Linked DNA regions of Homo sapiens. The protein of the gene in region 1 purifies or fractionates together with the protein of each later gene. This does not show direct contact. Each region holds a gene or a part of one and is shown in the gene's direction. Other genes may lie near its edges.

Region 1 (12,599 bases):
CCACCCTGGCAGATTTATTTTTAGTATTGTAGGCACAGGGTCTTGCTATGTTGCCCAGGCTGATCTTGAACTCCTGAACTCAAGTGGTCCTTCCACATCAGCTCTCAGAGTGCTGAGATTACAGGCATGAACCGCCGTGTCCAGTTAGACGTGTCTTTTTGGAGGACACAGTTACCCTCTACATGTACTAACTATACTTTGATGGTGGCCAAATCTGCGTTTCTAGGCCAGACTCCCTTGCTCAGAGTTTTAATGGGGGTGTCTGAGAAGCATCTCAAACTTAAAATGTCCCAACATGCCCTCCCCTCCCAGGCCACAGAAGCTGCTCCCATTGACTGTGGCCCCACTCTTGTACCCATTGACCGTACCTCCTCTCTTGTACTCATTGACTGTGCCCCCTCCCTTGTATCCACAACTTTGCCCCCTCCCTTTTACCCCATTGACTGTGCCTCCTGTGCCCTTTGACTGCACCCCCTTAGTGGCTCCAGAATGACGCTGTTGAGGGTGAGTCCCAGCTCAGCCTCTGGCCATCGTGGTGGCTGAGGCCACATTGCTCAGGCTTCTAAGGTGTAAGTGGCATCACAGCAGTGCCTCCCACGGATTTTGTGAGGGCAGATTGCACTAAGATGGCTCAATGTGCTCAAGAGGCGACCTGGCTGCTGCCACGGCTGCTGCTGTTCTCACTGGACTCCTTGTTCCTTTTTCTTTCATTTGTTTGTTTTTGGAGATGGAGTCTCGCTCTGTCACCCAGGCTGGAGTGCAGTGGCACGATCTTGGCTCACTGCAACCTCTGCCTCCTGGGTTCAAGCGATTCTGCTGCCTCAGCCTCCTGAGTAGCTGGGACTATAGGCGCATGCCACCATGCCCGGCTAATTTTTGTATTTTTAGTAGAGACAGGGTTTCACTATGTTGGCCAGGCTGGTCCCAAACTCCTGACCTTGTGATCCACCCGCCTGCACCTCCCAAAGTGCTGTGATTACAGGCGTGAGCCACTGCCCGGCTCCTTGTTCCTTTGAACTGTCTCGCTCAGGACAGGACGGTAGTCCTTCTGCATCCTGCAAGACTTGGACAGGATTTCTTTCCATTTAACACTGTCTCCTAAAGTGCTGCTTTCCTTGGGGAACTTTGCTGTTCTTGCTAGTCCAGAACAAGTGGCACAACTGCCCTTGACCTCCACATGACCTTCTCAGGGCAGCCCAGACTCTAAATGTCTGTGACCTGCACCAGCAGCAGCAAGGCCATGCCGGCCGTGGTCCAGCCCGGCTGCTCTCCCCCACTCTGCAGTGTTTTTCCACACCCATGCTGCAGGTGCTGGTTGCGTTCCTGCTCCATCCTTCAGTGCGGAAGTGGCATTTTGCGGTTTTCTGTTGTCATGAAGCAAGTGCGCCACACTTGCCTGTCTTATGTGCGTGTGTATATGAGCATGCCCATCTCAGTCTCCCTGAGCGCCTCTTTTCCACCCGTCTCAGGCCTCTGTGTTAGCTGTTCCCTCTCTCTGAAACACCAAACTCCCTGATCTCAGCCTGTCTCTCCAGTCTCGACGTAACAGCATCTTCCCAGCGAGGCCTGCTCTGACCACACGGCCCGGGAAAGCAGCCCAGGCCCCCTCTCACTTCACCCTGTGCCCATTCTTGACCCTGTGTATTGTGTCTCTCCCTTGCCTGGTTTGTGTCAGGAAGGCAGAGGCCCTGCCTGTCCTGCTCACTGCCGCACCCCAGGCCCAGCATGCTGCCTGGCATGGGCAGGCATTGACTTGATATTAGCTGGGCAATGAATGACAGTGACTGAAAATGTAATAGCAAGTCAGGGCCTAGCACAGGAAAATAAGTGATTGCTATGTAAGTGAAGGGTTGCTAAGTAGGATTTGGGTCATAACATACTGTTAAGGATAATTTTTTTGTTCTCTACATGTAAAAATATGTATTTTTAAAAATTGGATGTCATGGGCTGGGTGTGGTGGCTCATGCCTGTAATCCCAGCACTTTGGGAGGCCGAGGCGGGTGGATCTCCTGAGGTCGGGAGTTCGAGACCAGCCTGACCAACATGGAGAAACCCCGTCTCTACTAAAAACACAAAATTATCCAGGCATGGTGGCACATGACTGTAATCCCAGCTACTAGGGAGGCTGAGGCAGGAGAAACACTTGAACCTGGGAGGCGGAGGTTGAGGTGAGCCGAGATCGCGCCATTGCACTCCAGCCTGGGCAACAAGAGTGAAACTCGGTCTCAAAAAAAAAAAATTTGATGTTATGGAATGAGGGAGACAAAAAATGCTCTACAACTATTAACTGATGCTTTTCTGGTTTTGTTCTCCAGACACCATTCGCTTTTCACCCAAGATGATTTGATGTCTTATAAAACTCTGATGAACCATGATGGCTACACAGACATTAAGTATAGACAGCTATCAAGATGGGCAACAGGTGAGCTTGAACTTGATTCTGCATTCTAATTACAAATCAACCTGGCACTCAAGCATGAACATTGCTTTGTATACTTGCAATTCAATTGCCATGAGGTTGCATGCTCAGTGTTAGTGTATTATGCATTTATTGTACATTCGTGTTCAGAAAAAAAGCCATAGAATAATACTATTTCGTTAACTGATACCAAGATTGCCAGGAATCTTGACTTCCCTAAGTCATATGACAGTTTCTTGGGAATTTACCTTTTTAATGTCAGTGTTAATTAGCACTGTTACTTTGAAAGAAAACCCGGTTGATTTTCATGATGACAGATTCCCATGTTGACTGGTGGCTCTTCTGAGTGTCTAACTGGATCAGCTTTTGAATGGGAATCTTGTAGCCTCGTCTCCCCAGTTGTAGGCATGAGAGGGGCTGTCCCAGTAATGAATTTGCAGGGGCCCCAGTGCTCTATCTTTGTACCTTGCTCGTGCTTGGATGGTTGTGCCATACACGGGCAGCTCTCCATTGCCCTCCCACCATAGATGAGACTTTGTTCTCCTGGAAGCTGTGGTGTTTTGTGCTTTTGAGTATCTGAGTGTTTTGTGTTCTGTGACCTGAATGAATTGAGGAGCAGGTGGATCGAGACTTGGCTGAGGCCCTTGTGGTCTTTCTTGGCTTGCGATCTTGTTAAACACGGTGTTCTGAACCCACTGGCATTTGGCTCATCATCCCACTGACTCTGGAGCCAGTGAAGGGATTTGGCCCTGCCCTTTACTTTCCTGCCCAGCAGGCAGGGGCAGTGCAGTACACCCCCCTCGGCTCTCCTCCCCACCTCGAGGACTTCGGTGGCAAGGATCAGGCTCCGGAAAACTCACTGGAGCCATGCTGGTGAGGTCTGAGGAGGGGTTAGGAGCTGAGGCGCTGGGTCCCCCTTTCCCTGGTGGTTAGTTTTACCAACCAGTCCTTGTTCAGTTCCTGTGGCAGAGATTTTTGTTGTTGGTGGTGGTGGTGTTAGTGTTTTTTTTTCTCTGTATAGCAATTAAAGGAGGGAGATTCTGTGATGTAGTCAGCCTGCTTCCTTAGCCTAGAAGTCCTTAGTCCTTTGGTATTTCCAATTGACTTTTTTTTTTTTTTCTAAAATGCAAATCTAATAATGTCCCGCCTGAGCTCTCCAGTGGCTCCCTGTGGATTCCTGTGGGTTTCATGCAAAGACTGAGCTGCTCTGTGGCCCGAATCGTCTGGCCCCTCTGGACCCCAGGACGCCCCCAACATCTCTGCCTGGCATATCTTGGGCACCTCTCTGCCTGCCCTGGAGCACCGGTCCTCACTGTTCCCATCACTCTTCTCCCTCCTGCCTGCCAGGTCTTTGCTCCGACCCCACTGCTGCCTCCTGTGCACCAAGGCACGGTGACCACCTCCAACACAGCCTGGTTGCTACCAGCCACCTCCTCCCAGGCAGCTGTGCCAGGTGCAGATGACACCTGGAGCACTGCCCTTTTCATACCCGAGTGTTTCCAAGGGCCTCGGAAGTGTTTAATCAGCATTATTTTAAATAAACATTGAAATATATCTACAGCGTAGACCTATCATAATTATTTTGCCATTTTTCCAAGGTTGAACATTTAGGTTTCTCTCTTTTCACAATCATTTTTTTTTCAAATACTGAAATGAATCTTTTAAGGCTTCTTATTTTTTATTATTTATTTATTTACTTATTTATTTATTTTGAGACAGAGTCTTGCTCTGTTGCCCCGGCTGGAGTGCAGTGGTGTGATCTCAGCTCACTGCAACCTCCGTCTCCCAGGTTCAAGCAATTCTCCTGTCTCAGCCTCCTGAGTACCTGGGATTACAGGTGTGTGCCACCACGCCCAGCTAATTTTTTTGTATTTTTAGTAGAGACAGGGTTTCACCATGTTGGCCAGGCTGATCTTGAACCCCTGACCTCAGGTGATCCGCCCACCTTGGCCTCCCAAAGTGCTGGGATCACAGGCATAAGCCACTGTGCCTGGCCTTTTTAAGGCTTTTTATACATGCTGGCAGATTGCCTTACACAAATACTGTGTCCACTTAGGCTTTATTGCTTTTATTTTTTTTTTTTAAGAGAAACATAAACAGTTTTCCTAATATGTTGTACCATTTAAAGGCAGCAGAATAGAAGTCATCTTATTGCAAAAACAAGACATTGGAGGGAAGAGAGCACAGGGCTGGAGGATGTGAGAGGCGTCCTGTGCGGGTGGGCGTTCATGGCTGGCCCCCAGTCTGTCTGGACAGTGGGGATGGCCCCGCTCCCATGAGGTCTCCCCGCCCCCGCTGCCCCAAGCTGCTTCCTCAAGGGGCAGAAGCATGGCCAAATCCACCGCGGGAGAAATGGCCCGTCCTGGTCCTGAGGAAGCTGAGGTCAGGACAGTCTAATCTGCTGCTCATGGATAACTAGAAGTTTACTTTCACGAAATTTTGTTTTTGTAAACTGATTTTTTTTAACGATTTAAATGTTTTTTACCTAAATGACAAAGGCATTGCTTGTTTAAAGCAGTTTAAATGATAGTATCTTTTAAGGCTTTAAGTAAACACAGCTGGCCTTTTCCTTTCTGAATGCAGTGACATTTTTATGGCTATGTATTGCTGAGGTTTGAGGGTAGATATGGGAGAAGTTCAACCTTGTCCCAAATATGTAGCGTATGGGTTAGGTTGTGTCTGTGACATGGTAAGAAGACCTTGGACTATTTGTCTATGCTTCTCTGACTGTAGTATTGCTACACGTGAGGAGATATAGCAATAGACGGAGGAGTAGATTGCACGTGTGCCGTTCTCTTCATTAGGCCATCGCCAGTGTTATTTTAAAATCATGAGCATTTCACAGACATTGGTTATCTCAGTTCTTAAGCAGTTTGGAAATTTTACCTTTATTTTAAAGCACATTAAATTCAAAGCTGTTTTGTTGGTAGCATTCTTTACATATGATTGCAGTCATACTGCTGTCTGGCAATTCCCCACTCCAACTGCATTCCTGTTGGAGCATGGAATACCTCGTAGTAGTTTGTGTTTGCTAATAAGAATTATCTTCCTCCTTTTACAGATGCAAGTAGTAACAGAGTTAAAGACAGAACAAGATCCAAACTGCTCTGAACCCGATGCAGAAGGAGTGAGCCCTCCCCCTGTGGAGTCTCAGACCCCGATGGATGTGGACAAGCAGGCCATTTATAGGTAGTGCCCGGGGTGCCGGCTGTGGGGGCCTCAGAGGAGTGAGGAGTGTCCACAAGTTTGTTAAAAGGAACACCAGAACTAGTAGCGAGGCAGAGTTGTGAGGTGCCATTATGATGTGATAACTGCTCGGCTGAAAATTTTCTCAGATTAAGATGTTATTTCTGGCCAGGTGTGGTGGCTCATGCCTGTAATCCTAGCACTTTGGGAGGCTGAGGCGGGCGGATCACTTGAGGTTAAGAGTTTGAGACCAGCCTGGCCAACATGGTGAAACTCCATCTCTACTAAAAATACAAAAATTAGCCAGACATGGTGGCACATGTCTGTAATCCCAGCTACTTGGGAGGCTGAGGCAGGAGAATCACTTGAACCGGGGAGGCGGAGGTTGCATTGAGCTGATATCGCACCACTGCACTCCAGCCTGGGCAACGAGAGCAAAACTCTGTCACACACACACACACACACACACACACACACACACAAAGATGTTATTTCTAATACCTATAAAAGTTTTAGAATATCAATCTATAAATTTTGTGTAACCTTGCAAAAAGAAATATTCAGGCACAGATGATTTTACTGAGAATTCTACCCAACATATAAAGAAGAAGAGAGCAGCAAGTCTGCATAGTCTCTTTCAGGAAGTAGAGGAGGAGTGAATGCTTCCCAACTCACTTTATAATTGACATCACTCTGACACTAAGACCAAAGACAATACCAAATAAGGAAAATACAGGCCAATATCCTTCATGAACTTAGATGTAAAAATCATCAATAAAATATTAACAAATCAATTCTAGCAATATGTAAAAAGAATAATACGTAGCGACCAAGTCAAGTTTTTCCTGGGAATGTCAGACTTGTTTAGTATTTAAAAGTCTGCCAGGCGCAGTGGCTCACACCTGTAATCCCAGAACTTTGGAAGGCCGAGGCAGGTGGATTACCTGAGGTCAGGAGTTCAAGACCAGACTGGCCAACATGGCGAAACCCTGTCTCTACCAAAAAATACAAATATTAGCCGGGTGTGGTGGTGCATGCCTGTAGTCCCAGCTACTCTGGAGGCTGAGGTGGGAGAATCACTTGAACCCGGTAGGCGGAGGTTGCAGTGAGCTGAGATCATGCCACTGTACTCCAGTCTGAGTGACAGAGAGTGAGGCCCTATCTCAAAAAAAAAAAATTTTTTTTTAAGTTCAGCATAGAATTATATATAACTCAGCAATTCTACTCCTATGCATATGTATACCTAACACAAATGAAAAAAGTCCACACAAAAACGTGTACATGAATTTTCATAGCAGCACAGCCTATCATGGCCAAAAGCTGGAAACAGTGCCCATGCCCATCAACTGATGAATGAACAGACACATTATGGCATCTCCATGCAATGCAAGAATATTTAGCAGTAAAAGGAATGAAGTGGCGGGCGCGGTGGCTCATGCCTGTAATCCCAGGACTTTGAGGGGCCAAGTCGGGCAGATCACTTTAGGTCAGGAGATCGAGACAAGCCTGGCCAAAATGGCGAAATGTTGTCTCTACTAAAACAAAAACTAGGCCAGGCATGGTGGCTCACGCCTGTAATCCCAGCACTTTGGGAGGCTGAGGCGGTTGGATCATCTGAGGTCAGGAGTTTGAGACCATCCTGACCAACGTGGAGAAACCCTGTCTCTAAAGATACAAAATTAGCCGAGTCATGGTGGTGCATGCCTGTAGTCCTAGCTACTTGGGAGGCTGAGGCAGGAGAATCGCTTGAACCCGAGAGGCGGAGGTTGTGGTGAACCGAGATCACGCCATTGCACTCCAGCCTGGGCAACAAGAGCGAAACTCCATCTCAAAAAATAAAAAAAATTAGCTGGGCATCATGGCGGGTGCCTGTAGTCCCGGCTACTTGGGGAGGCTGAGTAGGAGAATCGCTTAAACCTGGGAGGGCAGAGGTTGCAGTGACCCGAGATCGTGCCGCTGCACTCCAGCCTGGGCGACAGAGTGAGACTCCATCTCAAAAAAAAAAAAAAAAAAAAGGAATAAAGTACTGATACCCGTAAAACACTGGTAAGCCTTGGACACTTTATGCTGAGGGAAACAAGCCAGACACCACGGTCACAGGTTAGACGGTTCCCATTTAGACAGAATGTCTAGGAGAGGCAAATATATAGAGATAGCAAGTAGGTTCTAACAGGCTGGGGTCTGGGAAAAAATGGAGAATGACTGCTATTGGATACAGGGTTTCTTTGCGGGGATCATGGAAATGTTCCAAAGTTGACGGCGGCAATGCTGTGCAACTGTAAAAACCGTTGAATTGCATACTTTCAACGGGTGGACCGTGTGGCGTGTGCATTTTCACCCAACAGAGGTGTTAGTGAAGTAGTGCAGGCATACACGCAAAGACATTCTCACGGAGATGTAGAACGTAAATGGATTCTTTTTTTTCTTTTCTCCTCAGGCATCCACTATTTCCATTATTAGCTTTGTTGTTTGAAAAATGTGAACAATCTACACAGGGCTCTGAAGGCACAACTTCTGCCAGTTTTGATGTAGACATCGAAAATTTTGTAAGAAAGCAAGAGAAGGAAGGGAAACCTTTCTTTTGTGAAGATCCAGAAACTGATAATTTAGTAAGTAAAATAAATTTTATTTTTAGTTTTCAAAATGTGAAATCTGTTCATGAAATTTTAGGCTTCTAAGTAGAACTTTAGACTGCTTGTAGTTCTGCTAAAGGAGAGACTCATACAACTCTAAAAGAATTTTTATGGTGTGTGTAATGTGGATATCCCCAAGTCTTCCAGCCTTCTCTAGGTATCTTTTATTTATTTAGTTTTTATTTTTAGATTTATTTTATTTTTGTAGACACATCTTACTGTATTCCCCCAGATGGTCTCAAACTCCTGGCCTCAAGCAATCTTCCCTCCTCAGTCTCTCAAGGCCCAACCTACCCTTTCCTTTAAAAATAAAATAAAATAGGCCAGGCGTGGTGGCTCACACCTGTAATCCCAGCACTTTGGGAGGCCGAGGTGGGCAGATCACAAGGTCAGGAGTTCGAGACCAGCCTGGCCAACATCTGGTCTCGATGTTGGCCAAAATCCCATCTCTACTGAAAATACAAAATTAGCCAGGCATGGTGGCACATGCCTGTAGTCCCAGCTACTCAGGAGGCTGAGGCAGGAGAATCACTTGAACGCAGGAGGCGGAAGTTGCAGTGAGCCGAGATTGTGCCACTGCACTCCAGCCTGGGTGTCAGAGTGAGACTCTGTCTCAAAAAATAAAAATAAAATAAAATAAAATAAAATAATTTGAGCCTCCATGCCAAATGGACACGGGGATTCAGTTCTCTGCACAGTGTTTGTAAAGGTCCGTAGGGCTGGGGTGTTCGGGTGGCATGTCTGTGACCTGTGTCTGTCCTTGGCTTATCATGGACATGGACACAGACTTGAGCTGTATTCTCCAAGACAGCTCTGTCTTTTTTTTTTTTTTTTTTTGAGACGGAGTCTCGCTCTGTTGCCCAGGCTGGAGTGCAGTGGTGTGATCTCAGCTCACTGCAAGCTCCGCCTCCCAGGTTCAAGCCATTCTCCTGCCTCAGCCTCCCGAGTAGCTGGGACTACAGGCACCCGCCACCACGCCCGGCTAATTTTTTTTGTATTTTTAGTAGAGACGGGATTTCACCGTGTTAGCCAGGATAGTCTCGATCTCCTGATCTTGTGATCTGCCTGCCTCAGCCTCCCAAAGTGCAGGGATTACAGGTGTGAGCCACCACGCCCGGCGACAGCTCTGTCTTGAGGCTGACAGTGATTTGTGATGCCCTCCCCCCAGGGCCAGGGCTCCAAAATCCAGCGTTTTCTGTGCCCTCCAGAGGCAATGGAGAACATCTTGGTTCCGTCATCACTGGATTGCTCTGAATGAGCTGCACCTGAGGCACCTGTACAGCACTGTCAGCTTTGGGCAGACCACACTCTCTGGGTGTGCTCTCCTGCCAGAGTGTAACCACGTGTTTACTTCTCAGAGCTGGGTACACAAAGATCCGGCATCAGGGAACCTTCACTGGATTCCCTTCGAGCCATCTTGGTCCCATATCAAAACCCTGGTTAGGGCCTTCAACAGAAAAGGTTTTTGGAAAACTCATTTTTCCTGAATAAATTGCTGAGGTCTTAGTTTTTAAGAAAATTCTCATTATATACTCGATGCTTACCATGAAACAGATTTTGTGGGTGAGTTATCTGACTTGAATCTGTCTCCTCCTCTCTGAGATGAGACTAACAGTGCATGCTCTTTGGGTGAGGATCCGATGCTCTCTCCACCCCTGAGTCTGTGGTCCACATCCATCTTCCCATTGGCCCACACCTGGCTTGGCCCAGTGAGTAGAGCACAGGTGTCCTCTGCACCCCACTAGGCTGGCAGGGACCAAGGTTCTCTTGACTGGTGAGTGTTTAGCACAGGGCCTAGCAGAGTTTGACACTCCATCATTTTTGTTACTGAGTGATTCATTTATTCACTGCATAGATACCTACGAATTCCTACCACCAGATTTACAGGTGAAGGAGATGGGCTTCGGAGCTGCTGATTCATAGGCAGCTGGTGCTTATGAAAATGGCTGCATTATTGGTATTAGTTATCTATTGCTGTGGGACAAATTACCCCAAAATGTAGTTACTTAATATAAAACTATACAACTTTGGCCAGGCGTGGTGGCTCACGCCTGTAATCCCAGCACTTTGGGAGGCTGAGGCAGGTGGATCACCTGAGGTCAGGAGTTCGTGAACAGCCTGACCAACATGGTGAAACCCCATCTCTACTAAAAATACAAAAATTAGCTGGGCATGGTGGTGCACACCTGTAATCCCAGCTACTCAGGAGGCTGAGGCAGGAGAATCACTTGAACCCAGAAGGCAGAGGTTGTAGTGAGCTGAGATCGCACCACTGCACTTCAGCCTCCAGCTTGGGCAATAAGAGTGAAACTCTGTCTCAAAAAACAAAACAAAACAAAATGATATAACTTTTAGAAAAATCGCAAGAGAAAATCTTGAGGATCTAGAACTAGGCAAAGACACCAAAATGGAACTTTATGAAAATGTAGCACTAGCCTAGGGTGAGTGTGGATGTATCACTATTTGTGGATGTAGAAACAGGAGTAGATGAGGGTGAGTCACTTGTCCTGCCTGCCACAGAGCGAATCAGTGGAAGGGCTAGGCTTTGGCTCACAGCCCACACACCTAGCACTGGGATGCACCGAGGTCACCACCACGCGCCTTTGTCTTCCCTGCACACCAGATGCAGCCAAACACCAAAGCCCAGGTCAGTGGCACCGGAACAACACATCAGTTTAGAGGATTTCTGATGTTATTCCACTTTGGTTATTGGCAGTAGAGATGGTTCTATCTAATGACTAAGAACTGGTATGTAGGATCATGATAACTTACAATAATGCCACCTTTTTCTCTGAAAGTCTTCATTTTCTCTGCTCTAGATGGTAAAAGCAATCCAGGTTTTGCGCATTCATCTTCTTGAGCTGGAAAAGGTTAACGAACTCTGCAAAGATTTCTGCAGTCGATACATTGCTTGTCTGAAAACAAAAATGAACAGTGAAACTCTGTTGAGTGGAGAGCCTGGAAGCCCGTACTCACCAGTGCAGTCCCAGGTACTTACATTTGGGGGTCTCGCTTTCCCTCTCTGCCACTGTGAACATCTGCATTGAGTCATGAGACCACCAGCTCTTTCAGAATTCACTGGGTCATCTTTATGACTTTCTACAAGAAGGACCCTCTAGGTCTCTGACCCCAGCCTGGTTTGGGAATGAACTCCCTCAGATTATGAAGTGAGTCCTCAATCTGCATACTGGGCCCCCGGTCCCATGTTTATGGAAGGCACAATTCCATTCATTTCTTTCTTTTATTTCTTCTGAAAATATTTTACTTATTCTTTTGAAAAATTGTGTAAAATACACATAATATAAAATTTACCATCTTAGCTATTTTAAAATTTACAGTTCAATGGTGTTAAGTTTATTCACATTGTTGGGCAACCATCAACACCATCCATCTCCAGAACTTTCTCATCTTCTCAAACTCAAACTCTGACCCCATTAAACACTCATTCCGGATTCCCCCTCCCCTAGCCCCTGGAACCCACCGTTCTACTGTCTGTCTCTGTGAATTCGATGACTCCAGGTCTCTCATGTTAAGCGGAATCGTACAGTGTTTGTCCTTCTGGATCCTTTGCTTGTTTCATTGTGCAGAATGCCTGGAGGGTTCATCCATGCGGAAGCACTATTGTGTTTTAGCCATTCTGATGATATGTAGTGATATTAATATTTCTTTGTGGTTTTAATTTTCATTTCCCTGATGGCTAATAATGTTGAACATTATTATACCCTCTGTGTATTTTCTTTGATAAAATGTCTGCTGCTTATGTCTTTTGCCTTTTTTTTTTTTTTTTTTTTGAGACAGAGTCTCGCTCCATCACCCAGGCTGGAGTGCAGTGGCGCGATCTCGGCTTACTGCAAACTCCGCCTCCTGGGTTCATGCCATTCTCCTGCCTCACCCTCCTGAGTAGCTGGGACTACAGGTGCCTGCCACCACACCCGGCTAATTTTTTGTATTTTTAGTAGAGACGGGGTTTCACCGTATTAGCCAGGATGGTCTCGATCTCCTGACCTCGTGATCCGCCCGCCTTGGCCTCCCAAAGTGCTGGGATTACAAGCATGAGCTACCACGCCTGGCCGTCTTTTGCGCATTTTTTAGTTGGATTTTTTTTTAACTTCTGAGTGTTGAGAGTTCTTTGCTTATTGTAGATACTAGTTCTCTGTTGGATATGTGGTTTGCAAGTGTTTTCTCCAAGTCTATAGTAGCTAAGTATTTTTCTCATCCTCTTAACAGGTCTTTTTCAGAGCCAGCCTTTTTAATTTTAATAAAGTTCAATTTATTAGGTTTTCCTTTTATGGATCATTCTTTTGGTGTCAAGTCTAAGAACTCTTTGCCTAACCCTAGGTCCCAAAGACTTCGTCTTAAGT
Region 2 (12,599 bases), on another chromosome or scaffold:
CTAGCTGAGTGTAAATGGGTTGTTCAAATTGCACTAGGGAGCCGGAGTTGCGTGGGTTTTAATTTAAAGATGTAAGTACAAATCTATGTGCATTGTAGAAAATTCGGAAAAGGTCCAACTGCCTAGCAAGTAAAAAGCTGTCATTCCAGCACGTGGGGGGTGACCGCTTCTCCCTTCTTGGGTGTTTTTTGGTGGATTTTTTTTGGTGACCCCGACTGGCCTAGACTCCATTCAAGGGCACATCTTGTGCAGTAAAACACGCATGTTTCAGGGCTCCTCACTGCAACACGTGCACCTCCAGGCTGGCGCTCAGCGCTCCCAGTAAAAGCTGCAGGCGGCGGTGTAGATAGTCGCCGGCCTTTCCTCCTCCCCACCTCGTGACGCTTTGTGCTGCGGAAGCAAAGGCCCGTTCCATTCCCCGTGTCTTCCCAGCAGCCGCCACCAATGCTCCTTTCTAGGAAACAGCCTTCCATTCTCTCTTAGGGCCGATCTTAGCGAGAGCCGCGATGCGGGCGACTGGTGCCGGGGTGGGTTGGGGGCGGGGGTGGGAATCAGGCCCCACTGCCAGGAGCCCGGGCCGCGCCTTCCGCTCTGACCTCATCCGGCCGCCCAGGCACTGGGCGCGGCAGCGAATCGGCGGCGCGGGCGGCCGGGAACGCCCAGCACAAATATTTACCGCCGCGCGGAGAGTGAGGGCCCAAGTCCGCCCTGCTCCGCCACTTAGGCCGCCCCAGACGCTTCCCTCGGGGCTGCCACCGGGTCGGGCGCGGCTGCCGCGGCTAGCGGGCCTTCCCCGCACCGGCGCGGCCCAACCGCCACCGAACCTTCTGGAAGCGGCGGCTGCCTGGGCCCCCACGCCGCCAGAATCGTACGCCCGCGCGAGCTCTCTGCAGCCTTGGCGGCCTGGGAGGCGGGGCTCGGGGTGGGGCCGGCGCGGGGGCGGGGTCGGCGCGGGGAGGCCGCGTTCGATTGCCCCCGGCGCGCAGGCCCCGCCTCACCAGCCCCATCGCTCCACCTCTGCCCTCCCCCTTTATGGCGCGGCCCGGGCTCATTCATTCCGCGCCGGGCCTGCCAGACACCTGCGCCCTTCTGCAGCCGCCCGCCGCATCCGCCGCCGCAGCCCCCAGCATGTCGGGCCCAGACGTCGAGACGCCGTCCGCCATCCAGATCTGCCGGTAAGAGAGGGCCCGCGCGCAGCCTGCAGCGGCCAGGCGCGCCGGTCACCGCCCCAGGCCTGCCCCGCTTGGCTCTGTGGTCCCCACCCGCCGAGGCCGCCCCCGCCCGCCGATTCCCCGCACGGCCTTCCGCGCCGCCGCCCCGGACGCCCGCCCGGCCGGGATGCGACTCGCGATGCCGCACAAGCCGGGCGGCCCCCGCCCGCCTCCAGCCGGCTCCTCCTGGCCGCATCTCCAGGGCGGCGGCCGCGCCACGGGCCGTTTGGGCGAGAAAGCCAGGCAGGGACGGGGCGGGCGGAGGTCAATGCACAGCTCCAGAGCCCGGCGACCGGCGCCCGTGGGCCGCCCCGCCTCGGGCCTCGCCCGAGCATCCCGGAGCCTCAGCCCCGTGGTCCTGCTTAGCCTCCTCGAGGATTCGGGATCATTACCTCGGCGGTTGTGCTGCGCTAACCAAAGCCCCCAGAGGTGGAGGGGAGGTGCCCAGAGCCGCGCGAGCCCCTCGGTGGGTGCCCCTGTGGGAGGAGGTTGCAGAGCTACCGTCTTCAGTGCACTGCTTCGGTTTGGGGGAGGGCAGGTGTTGAAAGGAAGAACAGATAATACTGTCTACCTCTAACAGTTTACTATGAAGAAAAGGGAATCAGTGGTCTGTTGGGCCTGAAAGCATCTTACACAATAGAGGCAAAGGGTTGTCCTTCTAGAGCACCCCCTCTTCTTCCACCAGGTACTGAGTAGATAGATGCAGGCCCCCAGAGGAAGCTGGAGGCTGGAGATCATGAACAAGCTCATTTCCCATAGGAGGTGGGGAGGGCAGCCTGAAGGTTACTCTGCAGTTCTCTTCGGCAGAATCGGAAGCAGCAGGCTGGCATTTGTGCATGAGCTAAGTGAGGACAAGGAGTCTAGGTTTTCAGCCACTGCACACAGGCTCTGTGGCCTGCGACCGGTCCTATCCTGCTTGATGAACTACCAGGAGTGAGAGCTGCTTTCTGTTTTGGTAGTGGGTTCCTCACATTTGGGGGTTGGGCATCACAGACTGACCTTGGGCTCAAGCCAAGTCCAATAGAAGCAAGTTACTTTCCTGTAGATGTTGACATCTCCAGGAAGGCTGGGCATATAGCAAGTCCTGGGTCTATGGCGATTCTTGACTCTCAGTCTCATCTTCTGGCCTGGTCGAGGGCCTCTCCTTACCTCAAGGTCGGTTTTGACTTTTCCAGAGGGGGAACGTCTTTGGGGGAGCCCTGCCCCTTTGACTTTGGCTCTGTGGCTGTTCTGGTCCCATCGACTCTGGAGGTGGGGAAAGCGGGGCAAAAAAAAAAAAGGAAATAACTGGAGACAGACAGCCTGCATCAGGTTCCTGAATCAGCTCTGCTGAGTATTGGCTGGGAAACTTGGGCTCCATGGTTTGCAAAGAGCTTATACCTGTCTCATCCCACTTGGTTTGCCCAATTCCCTGGGAGGTTGATGGTCGGTAGTGCCACCCTTACCTGTGTGGAGGAGGAAATGGCAGTTTTGGGAGTTGAGTAACTGTGTAAGGTCATCCTGCTCCAGGAGATCCAGGGACAGCCCCTGCCCAAGTCTTCTGACTCCAGATCCAGTATTCTTCCCACCCCTCTCCTGAATAAAGGAAACCTTGATTTAAATCTTCCCGTGGAAGGCTGGCCTTTTATTTACTTCTTCAGGGTGGTGAATAGCCAATTTATACATGTTGTCTTTTTTCACCCAGCTTCTAACAGTTACTAGATTTTTTGTTTTTTGAGACAGAGTCTCACTCTGTCACCCGGGCTGGAGTGCAGTGGCCCGATCTCAGCTCACTGCAACCCCTGCCTCCTGGGCTCAAGTGATTCTTGGGCCTCAGCCTCCCGAGTAGCTGGGACTACAAGAGTGCGCCACCACGCCTGGCTAATTTTTGTGTTTTTAGTAGAGATGGGGTTTCTCCATGTTGGCCAGGCTGGTCTCGAACTCCTGACCTCAGGTGATCTGTGATCTGCCCTCCTCGGCCTCCCAAAGTGCTGGGATTACAGGTGTGAACCACCGCACCCAGCTGGAAAAAGTTCTTGTGCCTCAGCCTCCTGAGTAGCTGGGACTACAGGCGTGCGCCACCACGCCCAGCTAATTTTTGTATTTTTAGTAGAGATGGGGTTTCATCATGTTGGCCAGGCTGGTCTTGAACTCCTGACCTCAGGTGATCCTCCCGCCTCAGCCTCTCAAAGTGCTGGGATTACAGGCGTGAGCCACTGCTCCTAGCCTAGTTACTAGATTTTTGTATAGCTTTAGACACTTCCATACAGTAAGTGTGTGCTTTTTGTTTGTTTGTTTGTTTGTTTTTGAGACAGTCTCGCTCTGTCACCCAGACTGGAATGCAATGGCACGATCTCAGCTCACTGCAACCTCTGCCTCCTGGGTTCAAGCGATTCTTCCACCTCAGCCTCCTGAGTTGCTGGGATTATAGGTACCCGCCATCATGTCTGGCTAATTTTTGTATTTTTAGTAGAGACGGGGTTTCACCATGTTGGCCAGGCTGGTCTTGAACTCCTGACCTCAGGTGATCTGCCCGCCTCGGCCTCCCAAAGTGCTGGGATTACAGGCGTGAGCCACTGCGCCTGGCCCGTGTGTGTGCTTTTTCTTACCCACTGTAAACCAAGTCTGCTATCTCAGGTTCACAATTGCATATTGTTTCTTTATTTTTTGGAGATGGAGTCTCACTCTGTCACCCAGGCTGGAGTGCGGTGACACACTCTCGGCTAACTGCAACCTCTGCCTCCTTTGTTCAAGTGATTCTCCTGTCTCAGCCTCCCGAGTAGCTGGGACTACAGGCGTGCACCACCGTGCCCAGCTAATTTTTGTATTTTTAGTAGAGATGGGGTTTCACCATGTTGGCCAGGCTAGTCTCGAACTCCTGACCTTAGATGATCTGCCCGCCTCGGCCTCCCAAAGTGCTGAGAATTACAGGCATGAGCCACCGTGCCTGGCCAATTGCATATTGTTTCTAAGTGGCTGCCTTGGCCAGACGACTGGTGAGGAGGATGCTTGGCTGCCCCTGCTCATGAGTGAGCAGGTGAGCCTCAGGTGCAGAGCGTGACTGCCAAAGGAGTAGGCGGGAGTGGTGGTAGGGGTAGGCCTGTGAAGAGAAGGCTGTGGTTCCATCGGCTTGACTCAGAGAAACCGCAGGACACTGGAGAGTGACTGTACTAGGATGGGGAGCCCTTTAAGGACATCTGAGCTGACACCCCAAGTTGAAAGAGGAGCCTCCTGGCCTAGCACAGCCAAGCCCATGAATTTAACAATGCTTTACTGGACACTGCCAAGAAGCATAGCACCAGGAGGGAAACGTGTGGAAAATGTGGCCCCTGCCTTAAGGGGTCACAGTCTAGCAGGGGTGAGAACGTCCAAATTCCCACCATCTTAGACACAATGGTCACATGTTCTCAGTTCAGACATTGTTGAAGGGATAGGGGCTTTTTTTTCTTTCTTTTTTTTTTTTTTTTGAGAGGGAGTCTTGCCCTGTCCCCCAGGCTAGATGCCATCTCGGCTCACTGCAACCTCTGCCTTCGAGGTTCTACTGATTCTCCTGCCTCAGCCTCCTGAGTAGTTGGGATTACACACGCCCGCCACCACGCCCAGCTAATTTTTTTGTATTTTTTTAGTAGAGATGGAGTTTCACCATGTTGGTCAGGCTGGTCACGAAGGGAACAGAATTTTTAATTGCATCAATTTAAATTCAGGTGGGTAGCCACCTGTGGCTGGTGGCTATCTTTTGGGGAGTGCAATATGTAGAGAAATTTAAACATCAATTTACTAGTAGGTCTGTGGGGGGCAGGGTGTTCCTAAAGGAAGCTCCAAGGCTTTCTGGGGACTGTAGCCAGCTCTGGAATAACCATGCTGATGGAGGGGGACCTTGGCATGGACACCACCCAGCAGGCAGATAACTTGGCATGCTTTATTTATAGGTAGATGTGTGAAATCTACAAGGTTTTTTTGTGTTTTCTTTGCTTGCCATGCTCTTAGATGCAGATCTACCAGGAAGTTTCCTGAGATCAGGAATTGTGTTGTACCATGTGGTACCATGAATGCCTAGAATAGTGTCTGAGGTCTAGTTGACAGGTCAATAAACAGCAGCTGAGTGGCTATGAGTTTCAGTATGTTATGGGGTTAGAATTATTTCCCCCAAGGGAAAAGACAAAGAGGGGCTCTACCTTTGTCTTTTTTTTTTTTTTTTCTTGAGACGGAGTCTCACTCTGTTGCCCAGGCTGGAGTGCAGTGGCGCGATCTCGGCTCACTGCAAGCTCCGCCTCCCGGGTTCACGCCATTCTCCTGCCTCAGCCTCCTGAGTAGCTGGGACTACAGGCATCCGCCACCACACCCGGCTAATTTTTTTTTGTATTTTTATTAGAGATGGGGTTTCACTGTGTTAGCCAGGATGGTCTCGATCTCCTGACCCTGTGGTCCTCCCACCTTGGCCTCCCAAAGTGCTGGGATTACGGGCGTGAGCCACCGCACCCGGCCTTTTTTTTTTTTTTTTTTTAAGAGAGTCTCACTCTGTCACCCAGGCTGGAGTGCAGTGACAGGATCTTGGCTCACTGCAGCCTCTGCCTCCCCAGTTCAAGCAATTCTCCTCTCCTCAGCTTCCCGAGTAGCTGGGACTACAGGCACCCACCACCACACTCGGCTAATTTTTGTATTTTTAGTAGAGACGGGGTTTCACTGTGTTTGCCAGGCTGGTCTCGAACTCCTGACCTTAAGTGATCTGCCCGCCTCGGCCTCCCAAAGTGCTGGAATTACAGGTGTGAGCCACTGCACCAGGCCGGGCTCTGTCTTTGGTTTTATAATGGAATTAATGAAAAGAAAGAACCTGGCCAGGCGCTGTGGCTCACGCCTGTAATCCCAGCACTTTGGGAGGCCCAGGTGGGCGGATCACGAGGTCAGGAGATGGAGACCATTCTGGCTAACACAGTGAAACCCCATCTCTACTAAAAATACAAAAAATTAGGCGGGCGTGGCGGTGTGCGCCTGTAGTCCCAGCTGCTGGGGAGGCTGCAGGCAGGAGAGTGGCATGAACCCGGGAGGCGGAGCTTGCAGTGAGCTGAGATCCCGCCACTGCACTCCAGCCTGGGCGACAGAGTGAGACTTGGTCTCAAAAAAAAAGAAAAAAAAGTTAGCTGGGCGTAGTGGCGGGTGCCTGTAATCCCAGTTACTTGGGAAGCTGAGGCAGGAGAATCGCTTGAACCTGGGAGGCGGAGGTTGCAGTGAGCCGAGATTGTGCCATTGCACTCCAGCCTGAGCAACAAGAGCAAAACTCCGTCTCAAAAAAAAAGAAAAAAAAAAAAACAAAGAACCTGATTTACAGAAGCCACACTCAGAGCTTGTATTCTGGAGCATTCCGCAAAATGATTTACAGTGCTGGCTCTCTTGCTGCTGGGATGTGTGGACCCTGGGTGAAGATGCAGTCTTTGTAACCCAGAGAGCCTGTGCGTGGGGAGGCCTTTGTCTACCCACTGTCCAACCTCACGCTGTAAGTGGGCCACTTAGCCTGGCATTGCCCTGGAATTGGCACCTGCAGCTAGCTGGCTCCCCAGTTCTGGTCAGACCAGAAGTGGCTTTCTCCTGTGTGACCCACCTGGCCTGTGTAGCCTGCACCAGGGGGTGACCCCATAGGCTGTCTTGCCATCCCACCCCTTGGCCTCTCACTCTCAGAGCCCTCCTGGGGAGGGGGATCAAGGATGTGCCTCCCCATCCTTGGACCCCTGCATGGGAATAACTGGGGAAGTCTGTTACAAATATGGGTTTTCTGCATGTGAACAGTACTTCAGCAGAGAGTCAACAAGATGAAGATTGAGGAGATAATGGGGAAACTTGAATAGTCCCTTGATAATGATTTTAAGGAATCACTGCTTTTTTTTTTAAGGTAGGATAATTGTTTTGTAGTTTGCTTTTTTAAACCAGCTTTATTGAGATAGATTTAGAATGCATACACAAGAATATTTGAAACGTACAGTTTGCTGAGTTTTGATGAGTGTGCACACTGAGTAGTGGCGGGCCCAGTTGTGATGTCGAATATTTCCAAACTCCCAAAATTCCCCTACTGTTGGCCCCTGGCAAAAAGATCTGCTTTCACTCACTCGCTGTGCCTCTTCTAGAATTTCGTGTCGATGGAACCGGATCGAGCTCAGTGCTGGGCCTCGCTCCTGTGTCCCCGTAGCCCTGTATTACCCTGTTCCCTGCACACTGCAGTTTCTCTTCACCAGGCCACAGAGACTTGGGATCTTGTGAATGAAGTTCACAAATGCAGATTTCAATTCATTTAGGACAGAAACGTGAAGTCACTTGCTATTTAATGATATTAGGAATTTGGATGATATTTTAGATGAGATCTTTGTTTTGTGGTTTTTATTTTTATTTGAGACAGGGTCTCGCTTAGTTGGCCAGGCAACTAAGTGGTGCAGTGGTGCAATCATGGTTCTCTGCAGCCCCAACCTTCTGGGCTCAAGGGATTCTCCCACCTCAGCCTCTCGAGTAGCTGGGACTACGAGTGCACGCCTCTGTGCCTGGCTAATGTTAAAAAGATTTTTTGTAGAGACATGATCTCACTTTGTTGCCGAGGCAGGTCTTGAACTCCTGGGCTCAAGTGATCTTCCCACCTCGGCCTCCCAAAGTGCTGGAATTGTGGGCATGAGTCACCATACCCCTCCTTTAGGTTTTTCACAAGGAGCTTTTATCTTTGAGAGGAAATGCAGACATATTTACGATGTCGTACTGGGAAATCCGGGATTTGCTGCAGAATAACCTGGCATGGGGAGCAGGTGGGAGCAGAGACCAGAGGTGCCCTGAGCTGACTGTTTTGGGGCTGCTTGATGGGGACATAGGGGTTCACTCCCTCCTCCCTCTACTCTTGTAAGCATTTGATGTTTACCACAATGAAGAATAAAAAGAAAACCAGGCTCCTGAGCCTCCACCCCAGAGCTACTGCCTCTAACTCCAGGGGCGGGGAAGGTCAGGGAGGGGTAGGCCCAGGAATCTGCATTTTCCTCGGCCCTCCTGGAGCTTGAGGGCCACTGTCAGAGGAGGGCCAGGCACCTGCCGTGTTGTGCGGTGTGTTGGCCTTCCTCGGCTTCCCCGCAGCCTTCCAGCTCTCCCGGTGCCTGTGAGCCAAGACCTCTCTGCCCAGGTGGAACTCCGCCCAGGTGGAACTCATTCTTCTACTTGCCTGAGGGCCAGCCTGAGTGGTGCGAGGTTTAAGGTCCTGGAGGTGGGAACCCTTATGAGTGTTGCTTGTGGCCCCACCCAGTTCATCCTCTCCCGCAGAGGGGTGGTGGCCCTGTCCTGTTTCCCTGTCTGTGAGTTCAGGCCGAGTCATGGATTCCTTGCATCACTGGTCTTTTGTAGAGAACATCCTGTGATCCAGTTCCGGAAGCCGAGGAGGCGGCTTGCCGGGGGCTGGTGGGGGAGGGGCGGTCCTAGGAGGAGCAGGAGCCTGGTGCTTTCTATCAGGGAGGGATCACACCGGCTCACTGCTGAGCCGGCCAGGCAGACACAGGCTTGGGCTCTGCTGGGCATCATACTTGTCACTGGGTAAACAGTTTGCCCACTTACCGCAGGATGAAGCTGCTTGCCAGGGCTCTCCGGCTCTGTGAGTTTGGGAGGCAGGCATCTTCCAGGAGGCTGGTGGCTGGCCAGGGATGTGTGGGGCCCCGGCGAGGGTGCTGCGCTCCCGTCCAGGTGGTTGGGCCCAGGGCTGATCTCCCACCCTGTGGAGCCTGCATTACTGGAAGGTAGGATGACTGGGAATATTTTGTGCCCATGGTGTCTCACTTGCGACGCCGACTGGGCAGCCAGGGCCTTGGGCCGCATAACTTGGAGGAGTTTTGGGGAGGGTAGTAGGGTCGGGTGTTGGATGAGCTGTGTGTTTTGCTGGATTGAAAGTGCCCACTTAAGTGGCCACCCTCAGTGGAGACCTGGCATGTTCTTCCCCTAGGGACGAGCGGAACACCCGGGCTTTGTTGGAGGAGGTGACCTGGCAACCCTGGGCTGTGGGAATCTGGGCCTCTGCAGATCAAGGCTCCTGCAAGCCAGCAGCTGTGCTGGCTCACAGCTGGCAGCTGGCATCCGTGCCCTGCTTTGTCCCTAGGCTGGATGTTGAGCTGTGATTTTAGACCAGAAGGTTGGTGCAGGGCCAGAGGGAGCTGTTCCTGCACGATTGGCTGATCCTAACAGTGCAGTGTTGAGCTGCTTACAGATGGCTTTTGCATACTTTATTTCTCCTAAACTTTACAGAAACTCTGTTGAGTGGGCATACATACCTCCCCCTTTGTGCCAGCTTTATTGGGTTATAGTTCACATGCCATACAATTCATTCACTAATGTGTACAAGCTAGTAGATTTCAGTTTTATGTTCACAGAGCTGTGGGATCATGACCTCCATCAATTTTGAAAGGGGTGGTAGGAGGATTTTTTGTTCTCCTGACATGGAGCTCCCCAAGCCCTTGGGACCTTTGTAGTCCTAAGAGTGTCTAGTATGCTAATGAGAGAACTGGTGGCTGGGGGCCCTAGATATAGCTTCAGGATGGGAGCTGGTCTCCAGAAAGGCCAAGGGAGGATTAGCGGGTTAGCGCTTTCAACCTTACCTTCCTATACCGCAGAAGGTAGTGCCAGACTTTACTTGAATTGTAGGACACCCACCTAGTGTCGGAGAGTTGGAGAAGTGGGGTTGAAAGAGACACCCATGTTTGTTATTAAAAGCATGAGTAAAAACAGCTCGCCTAGGAATATAATTTTTGGGTCATATGGTAATTTTGTGGTTATTCTCTTGAGGAATTACCAGACTGTTTCCAAAGTGGCTGCACCATTTCACATTCCCACCAGCAGTGTAAAAAGGATTCAATTTCCCCATATCCTTGTCAGCACTTGTTATTATCCATCTTTTGAATTCTAGCCATGCTAGTAGATGTGCAGTGGTATCTCACTGTGGCTTTGATCTACATTTCCCTAATGAGAGAAGATGATACTGAGCATCTTCTCATGTGCTTATTGACCACTGTGTATTTTTAGAGAGCTGTCTAGTCAGGTCTTTCCTGTATTTTCCAATTGGTGTAATTGTCTTTTTGTTGTTGAGTGATGAGAGCTCTTTATATATTCTAGATGCAAGTCCCTTCTCAGATAAAATTTTTTAATTAAGAAAATTTTCCAATTCAAAAAAGTTGTCAGCCTGGGCAACATAGCAAGATCTGATCTCTATTAAAGATTAAAAAATTAGCCAGATGTTGGCTGGGCGTGGTGGCTCACACCTGTAATCCCAGCACTTTGGGAGGCCGAGGCGGGCGGATCACGAGGTCAGGGGATCGAGACCATTCTAGCTAACACAGGGAAACCCCATCTTTACCAAAAATACAAAAAATTAGCCGAGTGTGGTGGCGGGCGCCTGTAGTCCCAGCTACTTGGGATGCTGAGGCAGGAGAATGGCTTGAACCCGGGAGGCGGAGCTTACAGTGAGCCAAGATCGTGCCACTGCACTCCAGCCTGGGCCACGGAGCAAGACTCCGTCTCAAAAGAAAAAAAAATTAGCCAGATGCAGGGTAGGTGGGGTGTGCCTGTAGTCTCAACCACTCAGGAGATTGAGGCAGGAAGATTGCTTGAACCCAGGAAGTTGAGGCTGTAGTGAGCTTATTGCACCACTGCAATCCAGCCTGGACAACAGATCAAGACTCTTGTCTCTCAAAAAAAAAAAAACTGTGTTAAAATACACATAATATATAATTTACCGTTAAAAAAATCTGCCATCAGGCCGGGCGCGGTGACTCACGCCTGTAATCCCAGAACTTTGGGAGGCTGAGGCGGATGGATCACGAGGTCAGGAGATCGAGACCATCCTGGCTAACAAGGTGAAACCCCGTCTCTACTAAAAATACAAAAAATTAGCCAGGCGTCATGGTGGGCGCCTGTAGTCTCAGCTACTTGGGAGGCTGAGGCAGGAGAATGGCATGAACCCGGGAGGCGGAGCTTGCAGTGAGCTGAGATTGCGCCACTACACTCCAGCCTGGGCAACAGAGCAAGACTCCGTCTCAAAAAAAAAAAAAAAATCTGCCATCTTAGCCGGGCATGGTGGCTCACACCTGTATTCCCACCACTTTGGGAGGCCAAGCTGGGTGGATCACCTGAGGTCAGGAGTTGGAGACCAGCCTGGCCAACATGGTGAAACCCCGTCTCTACTACAAATACGAAAAATAGCTGGGCGTGGTAGCCCACGCCTGTAGTCCCAGCTACTTGGGAAACTGAGGCAGGAGAATCACTTGAACCTGGGAGGCGGAGGTTGCAGTGATCCAAGATCGTGACATTGCACTCCAACCTGGGTGACAAGAGCGAAACTCTGTCCAAAAACAAAAAAAAAACAAAAAAACTGCCATCTTAATGATATGTGTATATGTATATGGTTAAGATGGCAGGTTTTGTTTTGTTTTTTAAATTGAGACAGGGTGTTACTCTGTCTTCTGGGGCGCATGTGGTGGTGCAGTCTCGGTCACTGAGCCTCTACCTCAAGTGATCCTCCTGCCTCAGCCACCCGAGTAGCTGGGACCACAGGCATGTGCTACCATACCTGGGTAATTTTTGTAGTTTTTGTAGAGACAGGATTTCGCCATGTTGGCCAGGCTGGTCCCAAACTCCTGAGCTCAAGGGATCTGCCCATCTCCGTCTGCCTCCTAAAGTGCTGGGATTACAGGTGTGAGTCACAGCGCCTGGCTACCATATACGTATTTGTAGCCATATTTTCTTGCTCTGTCACCCACTACGTCTCACTATGTTTCCCAGGCTCATTTTAATCATTTTTAAATGTCCAGCTCAGTTTTTTTGTTTTGTTTTTTGTTTTTGAGACAGAGTCTCGCTCTGTCGCCCAGGCTGGAGTGCGGTGGCACAATCTCGGCTCACTGCAAGCTCCGCCTCCCGGATTCAAGCGATTCTTCTGCCTCAGCCCCCCGCGTAGCTGGGACTACAGGTGCCCGCCACCACGCCCAGCTAATTTTTGTATTTTTAGTAGAGACGGGGTTTCCCCATGTTGGCTAGAATGGTCTTGACCTCGTGATCCGCCTGCCTCGGCCTCCCAAAGTGTTGGGATTACACGCGTGAGCCACCGCGCCCGGCCAAGTCTTGCACTTTCGCCCAGGCTGGAGTGCAGTGGCGCAATCTTGGCTCACTGCAAGCTCCGCCTCCCGGGTTCATGCCATTCTCCTGCCTCAGCCTCCTGAGTAGCTGGGACTACAGGCGCCCACCATCACGCCCAGCTAATTTTTTTTTTGTATTTTTAGTAGAGATGGGGTTTCACCGTGTTAGCCAGGATGGTCTCGATCTCCTGACCTCATGATCCACCTGCCTCGGCCTCCCAAAGTGCTGGGATTACAGGCGTGAGCCACCGCGCCCGGCTCATTCCCTTCCTTTTAAAGA

The links.
Region 2: the proteins of PKNOX1 (region 1) and ACOT7 purify together in Homo sapiens (affinity purification with mass spectrometry; 2 studies listed by BioGRID and IntAct, with this or other methods). This does not show direct contact.

Annotation. Positions count from the first base shown.
Region 1 is NC_000021.9:43,002,011-43,014,609, forward strand, and holds part of PKNOX1 (homeobox protein PKNOX1), read left to right. Parts: intron 1-2,315; 5' UTR 2,316-2,371; coding exon 2,372-2,422; intron 2,423-5,480; coding exon 5,481-5,608; intron 5,609-8,042; coding exon 8,043-8,214; intron 8,215-11,057; coding exon 11,058-11,228; intron 11,229-12,599. UniProt on the Homo sapiens protein: Activates transcription in the presence of PBX1A and HOXA1.
Region 2 is NC_000001.11:6,381,833-6,394,431, reverse strand, and holds the start of ACOT7 (cytosolic acyl coenzyme A thioester hydrolase), read left to right. Parts: upstream 1-664; 5' UTR 665-1,032; coding exon 1,033-1,175; intron 1,176-8,663; exon of another isoform or gene 8,664-8,765; coding exon of another isoform or gene 8,766-8,938; intron 8,939-12,599. UniProt on the Homo sapiens protein: Catalyzes the hydrolysis of acyl-CoAs into free fatty acids and coenzyme A (CoASH), regulating their respective intracellular levels.